Linked DNA regions of Homo sapiens: all the other regions are linked to region 1. Evidence: fine-mapped expression QTL. A gene starts in region 1. Each other region holds a variant in brackets. All regions are shown on one strand. Distances are from middle to middle.

The links. PIP is the estimated chance that this variant, and not a neighbour inherited with it, causes the effect.
Region 2: its variant is the best candidate, but not a certain one, in a credible set for the expression of JMJD7-PLA2G4B in monocytes (CEDAR, PIP 0.51).
Region 3: its variant is the best candidate, but not a certain one, in a credible set for the expression of JMJD7-PLA2G4B in coronary artery (GTEx, PIP 0.67).

What each region holds. Positions count from the first base shown.
Region 1 is chr15:41,825,951-41,830,067 of GRCh38, reverse strand. It overlaps JMJD7-PLA2G4B (JMJD7-PLA2G4B readthrough), which reads right to left and starts at 1,976. Exons shown (of 25, transcript NM_005090.4): 1 at 1,880-1,976. The coding sequence starts at 1,943. It overlaps MAPKBP1 (mitogen-activated protein kinase binding protein 1), which reads right to left. Exons shown (of 31, transcript NM_014994.3): 31 at 2,213-4,117. JMJD7 (jumonji domain containing 7) reads right to left here and starts at 1,976. Exons shown (of 8, transcript NM_001114632.2): 1 at 1,880-1,976. The coding sequence starts at 1,943. RefSeq lists a silencer at 1,999-2,088 and enhancers at 1,823-2,117, 2,149-2,378, 3,424-4,117.
Region 2 is chr15:41,791,263-41,795,379 of GRCh38, reverse strand. All of the region lies in intron 2 of MAPKBP1 (mitogen-activated protein kinase binding protein 1), which reads right to left. Among named protein-coding and RNA genes, the nearest start is that of MAPKBP1, 19 kb to the right of the region's middle. The variant T/G (reference allele first, on the strand shown) is at 2,561.
Region 3 is chr15:41,714,883-41,718,999 of GRCh38, reverse strand. All of the region lies in intron 9 of MGA (MAX dimerization protein MGA), which reads right to left. Among named protein-coding and RNA genes, the nearest start is that of MIR626, 25 kb to the right of the region's middle. The variant A/CTTACA (reference allele first, on the strand shown) is at 1,849.

The DNA.
Region 1 (4,117 bases):
CCACTGCTGCTCCCAGAGCCACTTCTGCTGCCCGACTTGTGCCTCCCCACTGCAGCCAGCATGATGACAGCATCTGCTTCCAACTGCCCGCCACTGTCATCAAAACTGCTGGACTCAAACAATCCTCTTGCCTCAGGAGGTGGGACTACAGGCACATGCCACCACACGATGGTGTCTCACTATGTTGCCCACGCTGGTCTTGAACTCCTGGCCTCAAGAGATGCCTCCCACCTTGGTCTCCTGAAGTGCTAGGATTACAGGCGTGAGTACTGCACACAGCCTGGGATTCTGAAAATACATGGAAACTGCCATTTTTTCACCCTTTGGACTTCTGCAATTAGGGATTTGTTTTACTTGCTCACCATTTCCTTTAGAGAATGGCTGCTTTCCTCTCCTGGGGCTTCCAAGTGAGAAAATTTCAAAAGGGATCCAAACAATTGCTTTGACCCCATAACTCTGCTAAGAATTTAACAAGGCCGGGAGCAGTGGCTTATGTGTTCCATGGCGTTCCAAAACTTTGGAATGCTGAGGTGGAAGGATTGTTTGAGGAATCTGAGACCAGCCTTGTCTCTACTAAAATTCAAAAAAATTAGCCAGGCGTGGTGGCGCATGCCTGTAGTCTCAGCTACTCCCAGGTGCTGAAGCAGGAGGATCTCTTGAACCTGGGAGGTCGAGGTGCAGCGAGCTATGATCGTGCCACTGCACTCCAGCCTGTGTGACAGAGTAAGACCCTGTCTCAAAAAATATAAAGTATTTAACCAACAAACATACTCACACATGCGCAGAAGACGCTGCTCCTGCAGACTGGCTTCTTCACTGTTTCCTAAACACATCAGGCATACTCCCAAAGAGGGCTTTGCCTGCACTTACCTTCTAACCTACTTCTTCTACTCTACAATGTACTCATTCAGTACACCTGTGGTTGATTGTCCACGTTCTCACTTAGAATGTAACAGGACATAGACTGTAAAAGACAGATTTGTTTTGTTCAGTGATGTATCTCAAACACACTGAACAGAGCCTGGCACACAGAGATGCTGAATAAGTATTTGTTAAATCAATCCTCAAAGTATTCGTTGCAGCATTATTGAAAACAACGGATTGGACATGACCTAAATGACTAAGTGAATACAGCACTAGCACACAGACGTGAAAAAGACTGAGGTAGAGGAATGTGAAATGATCTCCAAGATACACGGTGCAGAAGAGTGTGTTTAGCAGGCTACTATTTGTACAAAAAAAGGGTAAAAAGTCGTGTGTGCACGGATATAAACAATCTTTCTGTAAGAATGCAAACTGGGGCTGGGAGGAAACCTTGCTTCATTTACATTGCGTACCACTGTATATTACATACCCATCACATACACATGAGCCTGTGTTGCTGTTCAGTGGTAAGAAATCATTTAAAAATAGAAAAAAGAAGGAAGGAGGGAAGAGAGAAAGAAAGAAAAGGAATAAAAACCAAGCAGGGGAAGAGCCAGGGACCATTTGGTCAGCCTGCAATCCTCCCAAAGTGCGACAAGGGAGTTGAGGTCGGAGGTGGGGCGCGTGGGGGAGGAATCCGACCACCAGCTGTGTGCCTTCGATGAGCTTTCAACAAGGGTAACAGCAAGCTGCTCAAGACTGTAGGAAACACAGGGCTTCGCCGCGACCACGGTCAAGACGGCACCGGGCCTTGGGAACAACGTGAACAGAATCACCCAGGAAGCCGCGGGAGCGCGCGAACACGGGAGAAGGGAAGCAGGTTGCCACAGAAGAGCAACCCGAGCGGGGCCTCAGGGCAGTCGCACACACGAGGTTCCGAGCCCCCGGTGTCAGCGGCATCCCAGGGCCCCTCCCGTGTTCGGAAATCGCCGCAGCCTGTGGGAGAGCCACTCACCCCTTGCAGCGGCCGGGAATTCTCGTAACTCGCTCCGCACGGCTTCCAAAGCCGCCTCCGCCATGGCTGCGTCAGCGCCGGCCGAGACCCCGCCTTTCCCCGACGCCCCGCCGCAGGCCACACCCCAAGCACTCGCCCCGCCCTCCCCAGAGTCCCCGCCGCAGGCCACACCCCCAGACCCTCGCCCCGCCCTTCCAGAGGCACCCGCCGCAGGCCACACCCCCAGCACCCCGCCCCGTCCTGCCCCTGGACACACACCGGGTTCTGCCACCGAAGCGGTGGAGCGACTGGCAGCGCCCGCTTCGGCCTGCCCCACTGGCCGGCATCCCAGGGTTAACAAACAATTGTGTTTATTGACAAGTTCATACATCAGTACAAACGGGCACGTTAAAAACAGCGCCCCCGCCCCATGCAGCCGAGGATGAGGCAGGAAGCGCCGCGACCTGCACAAAGTATAAAAGTTATAAATAAGGGGCTTTCAAAACAAGGCGGGGGCAAATCTGGAGTGGGGCGGCGGTTGCCGGTGGCCTCAGACATGCAGAAGGGGACGGGGCGCCGGCCGGGCCACGAGGCCCCCCACCCACATGGGGCAGAGGGCAGGAAAAGGGCGGCCACATTCTCACAAACTTCTGGCGAAGGGTAGCTCCCTCCTCGTGAAGGACCTGGCCCAGAGGGCGAACCTGAGTCCCACCTGCGGTGGGCGCGGCTGGTGTGGGAAGTCGGGGCACAGCAGGCACGGGCCCGCCCCCGCCGCCGCGGGAGTTCCAGGGCCATGCGGGTGGCGATGCTAGAGGAGTGGGGAAGGGCCAGGTTTGGAGCAGCTCAAGCGCACTCAGGCTGATGCCCCGGAGCTGGGAACCTTTTGTAACCCTTTTTCTTTTTTTTTTTTGAGATGGCGTGTAGCTTTGTCACCTAGGTTGGAGTGCAATGGCGCGATCTCGGCTCACTGCAACCTCCACCTCCACCTCCAGGGTTCAAGCGATTCTCCTGCCTAAACCTCCCGAGTAGCTGGGATTACAGGCGCCCACCACCACGCCCAGCTAATTTTTTTATTTTTAGTAGACAGGGTTTCACCATGTTGGCCAGGCTGATCTCGAACTCCTAACCTCAGGTGATCCACCCGCCTCGGCCTCCCAAAGTGCTGGGATTACAGGCTTGAGCCACCACACCTGGCCCAGAACCCATTTCTTTATAAGCCTCTGCCTATGGCGCAGCAGGGCGGGTGAAGGGGCTCTCGTGGCCTGAAGCTGTGGTAAAGCTGCTCTGACTTACCTGCAGCAGAGGGGAGCAGTAGGGCCCAGAAAAACCTTTCCTCAACTCTTCAACTGCCTCACGACATGGTCCCACTCTACCTCCTAGGGTCCCCTATCTCCTTTCCCTCACCCCTAATTACTGCCCTTTTACATTCTAACTTATCCCCTCACCTCTGCCACTTACCTGTCCCATCTACCACTTTTCTAGTGTCTCCTTTGGCCCCAGCACCTCCCTCCTCTCAAACTCCAGTATCCAGCACACCCGTGGGTGCCCAGCACTGCCTTTGAGGAGGCTCCTTCTACCTAAACCAGGTGTCCTATGGGCTATCTCGTATCAGCTAGGCTGTGGACACCAAGAATCCAGAATCTGGGTTCACTTAGTGTACTGCACCCCTTTTCTGCTCCCTGATAGGTGTTCCACATAAGCCAGGGTGGTGAAGCTGAGGCAGGATGTGAGGAAACCAGGCACACAGCAGCCAGCCAGATACTCTAGCAACCAACACTCAACAGCGTGCTGTGCAGGTAGGTGTGTGTGTGTACATGTGTGCACGTGCATGCGTGTGATCTCATCTGTGGCTGAGGTCCTCAGGAGGTAGGCCAGCGCCCCGTAAACGAGGGATGTTCCAACACAGGCTTCTGACTAAGCATCATTCAGGATGCAGGGAGAAGGTGGCCTCTGGGCTCCAGCAGCCGGCTGGGGTCCAGGGTGGAGGACAGGGAAGAACAAGGGGCTGAGGAAAGGAGGCCAGAGCTTCATGTTTGCCCAGGTGAGGGCTTACTGTCCTGCAGCAACATCCCACAGCTGGCTCAAGTTCTGGCCAGGAGAGTAAGGGGTCACAGGGAAATACAATGCTGGGCCCCTCTTGGAGGGAGAATGGGAGTGGAATGTGCGGGCTCAGGTCCAAATACCAACTCAAGTCTCCTGATGGCTGGGGACACCCTGGAGGGCCAGATGGCTCTGCCTTTCTGAGCTCCAGGTATTGGG
Region 2 (4,117 bases), 35 kb after region 1:
TTAAGCCAATTGTAGCCTCAGGTCCTTTACATATGCCATTCCTTGGACTAAAAAGTTCTTCTCTCAGCTATGCACAAAGCTAATTTCCTGAAGTCTTTGCTCAAAGGTCTCTTCCTCAGAGAGGGCCTTCCAGACTAGCTTTACTGCCATAATCTTATACCCAATTTACCCAGCCTTAGTTTTTCTTTTTTCTTTTTCTTTTTTTTTTTTTTTTTTGAGACAGGGTTTCACTTGTCACCCAGGCTGGAGTGCAGTGGTATGATCTCGGCTCACTGCAACCTCTGCCTCCCAGGTTAAAGCAATTATCCTGCCTCAGCCTCCCAGGCAGCTGAGATTACAGGTGCCCACCATCATGCCCGGCTAATTTTTGTATTTTTGGTAGAGACAGGGTTTCACCATATTGACCAGGCTGGTCTTGAACCCCTGACCTCAAGTGATCTGCCCGCCTCGGCCTCCCAAAGTGCTGGGATCACAGGCATGAGCCATCACGCCCGGCCACCCAGCCTTACTTTTCTTCATAGCTCAGAGGCAGGTAACAACCCAACATTGATTACATCTCTGTCCATGTACTTACTACTGCCTGTCTGTCCCATCAGAATGTGAGCTCTTTGAGGACAGGACCTAGGTTGCTGTCCCCCATGGATGTATTCCCAGCACTTTAAACAGTCTCTGGCATACAATGGGCACTTGATACATATTTAAGGAATAAATGAATGCCTTACAGAGGCTTCAGAAACAGTGAAAGCCCAGGAAAACTGGGGTATTTCAGACCAATAAAGTTGTTCTCCACAAAGTATCTAAAACTGGTTGTGACAGAAAGGCTATGACCGACCGAGGACAAGCAGAAAGGGCACTTAATGGTACAGGTAACATTTTGTTTCTTAAGCTGATGGTAGGCACACATTGCCTATTATTCCACGTCTTTATTGTATGTCTTAAATATTGCATAGCAAATATTAAAAAGAGAGAAAAAATATAGTGGAAGATGTGGTGTGGGGCTCAGGACCTTATGAGCAACATCCTTCTATAACTCACATCCCCACTTCTCTCTCTAGCCTCAAGGCATTTGGTTGACACTCACTGATCTGGCAATGTGGAGGGAAAGAGTATGAAGAACTCAAACATCTGGTTTGTTGTTGTTGCTGTTTTGAGACAAGTCTTGCTCTGTCACCCAGGCTGGAGTGCAGTGGGGTGATCTCAGCTCACTGCAATCTCTGCCTCCAGGGTTCAAGCGATTCTGCTGCCTCAGCCTCCCGAGTAGCTAGGATTACAGGCACCCACCATCGTGTCTGGCTAATTTTTGTATTTTTAGTGGGGAGATGAGGTTTCACCATGTTGCCCAGGCTGGTCTTAAACTCCTGACCTCAAGCAATCCACCCACCTTGGCCTCCCAAAGTGCTGATTACAGGAGTGAGCCACCGCGCCCGGCCAAATATCTGTGTTTGTATTTAAGTTTCTCATGTCTGTCCTTATGCAGCTACATATTTGTATAATTCTTTGACATGTCACAGAACCACCATCGTGAGTACCCCTCTTTCTGACTGCTAAGCACGGCAGCAGGCGATGAGATGGGCCCCTTGACCTGGGTCCCCATGCTGACCTTCACTGAATATGTAGCATGAGCAAGAAATAAACTGTTGCTTAAGCCAGGGGGATTTTTGAGGTGGTTTGTTATCAAGCAGGACCTAGCCCAGAGATTCTCAGACCTTTTGGTCTTGGGAACTCTTCACAGTCTTAGAGCTTATCAAGGACAACAGAGAGCTTCTGTTTATGCGGGTTATGTCTATCAATATTTACTATATTTGAAATCACAATCTGAAACATTAAAAATATTTACTAAATCATTTAGAAATAACAATAAACCCATTACATATTAACATTCTTTTTTTATTTTTATTTATTTTTTTGAGACGGAGTCTCACTGTGTTACCCAGACTGGAGTGCAGTGGCACAATCTTGCCTCACTGCAAGCTCACACTATTCTCCTGCCTCAGCCTCCCGAGTAGCTGGTACTACAGGCACATGCCACCACGTCCGGCTAATTTTTTGTATTTTTAGTAGAGACGGGGTTTCACCGTGTTAGCCAGTATGGTCTCGATCTCCTGACCTCATGATCCACCCATCTCGGCCTCCCAAAGTGCTGGGATTACAGGCGTGAGCGACTGCACCCAGCCCACATATTAGCGTTCTTATTAAATATAACTTTATTTTCCAAAACAAAAATAATTAGTGAGAAGAATGGCACTGTTTTACATTTTTGCAAACCTTTTTCATATCTGGCTTAACAGAAGGGAGCTGGGTTCTCATATCTGCATCTGCATTCAATCTGTCCTGACATTATCTAGTGGAAGTATGCGAAGAAAACCTAGCCTCATTTGGATATGTAGTTGGAAACAGGACATCATGGACCCCCTAAAGGGGTTTTGGGGACTCCAGGCTTCTCAGACCACACTCTGAGAACCAATGACCCACCCCTCTAAATACTACAGCATCTTTCCACATGAGGAAGCAAGCCCACAAGTGAGAGTTCTGGCCTCAAGGATCGCTTGAAGAAAGTGAG[T/G]TAGGAAAGAGGCCCTGCGAGAAAATTACTGTCCATAAAGTCTGGGATTCAGCCCAAAGTTCTGACAGGAACTTCAGCTCCAAACCTTCAAGGCCCAAATGCCGATGAAATACAGCCCAGGAGACACACCAGTCCAGGCAACTGTGTCTGGGCAGTGACTTGGGACACAACTGCTGCAGGCAGCTGGCACCCTGACCCATCCATCTACAGCTCTAGGAACACTGCTTCATGCACAAGTGGAAACTCAGAAGGAAGAAGAGAGGACCCACTTGGTTCTCTACAGTGAGCTCCTCCACACCCAGAATGCAGCCTTGAAGCATGGAGAATACCCAAACTGTGACCCAGCTTTTGCTTTGGCAGGTGGACAGTGTTGAGATGGAAGAAAGCGTATACCAACCTGACAGAGGTGTCATCTTTCCCCTGAAGCAAGGCTACTGGAGGCAGAATTACTACAAGTATAATGTGAGGGAGGGCTTGAATACCCACCACTCCCAGTAGGAACTAGGCAGAGCACTATCATATCCTCCAGAGAGAAAGAGGGCCAGCAAAATCATCTCTCACTTTAATAAGATAAAGGGGTAACTTCATACTAGCCTATTCCCAGGAGAGAAAGAAAGAATAAAGCCACGTGTTTAAGTGCTCTTCTGGCTCTCATTAAAGTAGATGGAAAAAACAGGTGGCGTAGAGGCAAGAGACAGGACTGCTCATTCATACTAGATAGAACAGTAGTTTCCAGCCTGCAGATTGCAGTCTTTTTTTTTTTTGAGATGGAGTTTTACTCTTGTTACCCAGGCTAGACTGCAATGGCACGATCTCGGCTGACAGCAACCTCCACCTCCCGGGTTCAAGTGATTCTACTGCCTCAGCCTCCCAAGTAGCTGGGATTACAGGCATGCGCCACCACACCTGGCTAATTTTATATTTTTAGTAGAGACGGGGTTTCTCCATGTTGGTCAGGCTGGTCTCAAACTCCCAACCTCAGACAACACCTATTTTTAGAGCATGGAGAAGATGAGGTACAGGCAGTGAGAAAGAGAGGAGGAGAACCAGGAAGCCAGTGAAGTGGAGAGCTCCCAGAAGGGAGGGGTGATTAATAGTGAGTGCTGAAAGAAATGAAGGAGGCAAGGACAGAACTCTCCAGAGTCCAGAGCCATCCTCAACAGAGGTGGCACAGCATAAGATCCCAAGCGGTCCCAGAGCCCTAAACATACAATCCTAGACACTGGGCAGGGCCTTCGAAGCTTTTCTGCTCTCTCAAGTCCCTGGATCTGATCAGTTCACGAGCTAGAGGACAGGCACTAGCCAATGGAAGCGAGTCCAGGTGGAGCCAAGACAGTGGCACTGTTAGGAAGGGCTTCCTGCTTGGACCCACAACAGAAGTTGGCAGGAAATGCTTTCCCTTTTAGTGTGAGGGACCACTACAGGAAGTCTGCAATGGCACGGGAGTGGCTGCTCCCTTGAGATAGAGAACTAAGAGGCCAGAGTCACAAAAGGCCAGGGTCCCCTAGGATTTGGCTGACCTCATACTGGTAAAGAAACCCCAGCAACTGTGAGGAA
Region 3 (4,117 bases), 110 kb after region 1:
TAGGATTTTCCTATCCATGAATAAAGCCAATTTTTACTTCTTCCTTTCCAATCTGGATACCTCTCTCTTTATCATGCCCTTACTGCACTGGCTAGGACCTCCTGTACATAACGTTAAACAGAAGTGGTAAAAATGGGCATTCTTCCTCATTCCCAGTCTTTGGGAGAGAACAATAAGTCTTTTATCATTAATATGTCAATTGTAATATTTTTCAAAGATTATTTTATCCAGTTGAGAAAATTCCTTGCTATTCCTAGTGTGCTGAGAATTTTTACCAGAAATGAATTTTGTCAATCTTTCAAAAATATCTCTTAATCAGGTGGAGCTTGAACACACCAGAAATTTGTCATTGCCATCTCAACCAAAACTGGCATTAGCAATGTAAAAATCCCAAAACATCTTATTGATGCTCACTTCGAGAAGCAGTTGCAGAAGCCCAGACACCAGGAAGGTGAGATCTCTGACACAGAAAAAGAGAACTACAAGACTACAGAGCAGTGCAAGATTGATCAGAAAGCTGTGGACTCACAAATTGTACGAAAAATCAAAGCTATTCCTCAGCTCCAGGGCTACCTGCGATCTGTGTTTGCCCTGACGAATGGAATTTATCCTCACAAATTGGTGTTTTAAACTTCTTAAGAACCTAACTAAATAATACTATACATGTATATATATATGTATATATATATATATATATACACACACACACACACTACATATACACTACATATATCAAGATATCTATCTATATATAGTGAGATAGATATATATCTTGAGATGATAAATGTTGAATTTTTATCAATTTAACCACATTCACTAATATCATAAATGATCTCATTTAATCTGTTATATGGCAAATTACATAAATATTCATATCTAAATCAAATTTCTATCCTTAATATGTATTTTATACATATGGACATATTTACTAATTACAACATATGATGTCACCATAATTTAGAACATTAATTTTTTTTTTTTTTTTGAGACAGGGTCTCACTCTGTCACCCAGACTGGTCTTTTTTTAAGTCCACTGTAATGGCAAAGTATACTGATTGATTTTTCAAATGTTAAACAAATCCCACACTTCTAGGATACACCCCACTTAGTCATGATGCAGTATTCTTTAAATATACTGTTGGATTTGAGTTGCTAAACTTTTATTTAGAAATTTTACATCTATGTTCATAAGGGTTATCAGTCTACAGTTTTCTTGTAAAGTCTTCTTATGGATTGAATATCAGGGTAATGCTGGTTTCATAAGATGACACCATTTTATGGAAGACTGTATCAAATGGGATTTAGTCTTTAATGTTTTATAGAATTCAACAGTGAAGCAACTCAGACCAGAATTATTATTGCAGGGTTTTCCACTACAAGTTCAATTCTCTAATAAGTATAAGGCAAGCAGTCACCTATTTCTTCTTGAGTGAGTTTTGTAGCTTGTGTCTTTTAAAGAGTTTTTCCATTTCATCTGAGTTCTCCATTTACTGACATAAAGTTGTTCATAATATTGCCATATCATCCTTTCAATGTCTGTACTGAAGTCACCTTTCATTCCTAATAATGGTAATTAGTATGTTCTCTTTATTCCTCAGTCTGGCTACAAGTATCAATTTTATTGATTTTTTTTCTTTATATTGTTAATTTATAGGTATATTAAGTGGGCTAAGAAAACAGAAATGACAAGTTTTATTCTTTCCCTTGGTACTACCCACAACAGCTAGGCACAGTACCTCTGCACAGCCAGCAGTATTTTTTGACAAACCAAAGGATAAGCAGGTGATAAAAGTAAAGGCCACTGGGGTCTACAACAAGGAGGCAGAATTAAAATTTCAGAAATTGTAC[A/CTTACA]AGGCAGAAAAAGCATGAGGACTTGGCAGTCCCCTACAACTCACTTAGTATCTTTATGACCTTGGAGAACAAGTCACTAAGCACTCAATTAGCTCATTTCTAAAATGGAGAATGAAGCCTCCTTATCATATAAGGTTGAAGGTTTAAATGATAGAACCTTCATAGAGAGCTATGCATAACAGTGTCCAATAATGTTACCCATCTTTTTTTCAGCAATGGATTGAACCATTACAAAAAAATTTTTAAGTCTGTTACAATGACAAAAAAAAAGTATTAAATGCTGAGATTTTATGCATTGAGAAGACTAATTTTTTATATATTAACTATATAATAAAAACACACAAAAAACTGTGCTAAAGAATATAAAAAGAAACAAGTCTTCCATCATACCCAGTGTTGCAGTGACAAGTGACTACTTTTAAACATTTATGTTTATTTTTAGTGGTTACACTCAATCATTCTAAATAAAATGCTTATACCTCAATTTCATAACTTACTTTTTTTTACCCTCAGTTTCCACCTATCTTTTTGCAAAACATACTAAAGGATTTCAACTTTTCCAGTTTTTATATTTTTTCTTTGTCCATTTTTGGTATCGGCAACATGTTTACCTCTAAGAACTCTTTCCTGTTTCTACTCCTTTTACATATCAGTTGTTAACAAAAATATCACCCCTCCTTTTTCTTTTTCTTTTTTTTGATACGGAGTCTCGCTTTGTCGCCCAGGCTGGAGTGCAGTGGCACAATCTCGGCTCACTGCAAGCTCTGCCTCCCGGGTTCACACCATTCTCCTGCCTCAGCCTCCGGAGTAGCTGGGACTACAGGTGCCCGCCACCACGCCTGGCTAATTTTTTTTTTTTTGTATTTTTAGTAGAGACGGGGTTTCACCGTGTTAGCCAGGACAGTCTCGATCTCCTGACCTCGTGATCTGCCCGCCTCAGCCGTCCAAAGTGCTGGGATTACAGGCCTGCGCCACCGTGCCCAGCCATCCCTCCTTTTTCATCCTTCCCTAACAGCACAAGAAAACTGATGGCTCCTAGATAGGGAATAGCAAGCTTTGCTTTTTATAATGAACTGTACCAGTAAGAAAACAAAAAAATACTTTAATAATTGGCTATCGGAGTTTAATTATAGTCAAGGATAGGGCACAGGATGAAGACAATAATCAAAAAGCAGTAAAGCCTAAGAGGTAAGCACTATTCCTGCTTATGTGGGCTTCCGTATTTTATTTTTGTTGCTTTGAAATGGAAATGCTTGTCTTAAGCATAAGAAGGGAGTAAACTCAGTAAGGAGATATGGGTAGAACTAAACTAATAAATCTACACTATGCTTCATTTTAAACCTTTAAAATCTTATTTACACAAAGATCATTTAGGTATTTAAATACACTATATCTCACTTAAATGCTAAAATAGAAATAAGAATACCCTGGCACTGGTCACAAAACAGGAGAGGCCAGAAAGAGATCCAGTCATTAATATATTTTAATTTATTATATTACAGGTGACATTTTAATTCAGTAGGAAAAGTATATTTCTCAATAAGTGATAGTACAACGGCTAGGCATTTGGGGGAAATATGATTCCCTACTACAAATCCCACATCAAATAAATTCAGCTATATTAACAACTTATTTTTTTTAAGTCCAAAAAAGTACTAGAAGAAATATAATTAAATATTTTTATAATCTCAAGGTAGAGAAAGACTTTCTAAACAAGACTTTAAAGACAGAAACCAAGCCCTTTGGGAGGCCGAGGTGGGCCGATCATAAAGTCAGGTGTTCGAGACCAGCCTGGCCAATATGGTGAAACCCCGTCTCTACTAAAAATAGAAAAATTAGCCAGGTGTGGTGGTGCATGCCTGTAGTCCCAGCTACTTGGGAGGCTGAGGCAGAAGAATTGCTTGAACCCAAGAGGTGGAGGTTGCAGTGAGCCGAGATCGTGCCACTGCACTCCAGCCTGGGCAACAGAGTGAGACTCTGTCTCAAAAAAAGAAAAAAGAAAAAAAAAAAAAAAGACAGAAACCATAAAAAGAAAAGACTGCCAAGTTTAACTATCACTGCTTTTTCACTGGGGGCGGGTGGGCAGTGGGGGAGGGAACCTTGAACAAAACGAAAATGTAAATTACAAAATTATAACCTAGAAAATATAAAGCTTCTGCAAACTAAAGGAAAAAAACACACTCCAATAAAAGTTAGCAAAGAATTCAAAAAGGCAATTTACAGAAAAAAAGTTTATGATAAATGGTCAATAAATCTATCATAGAAGAAA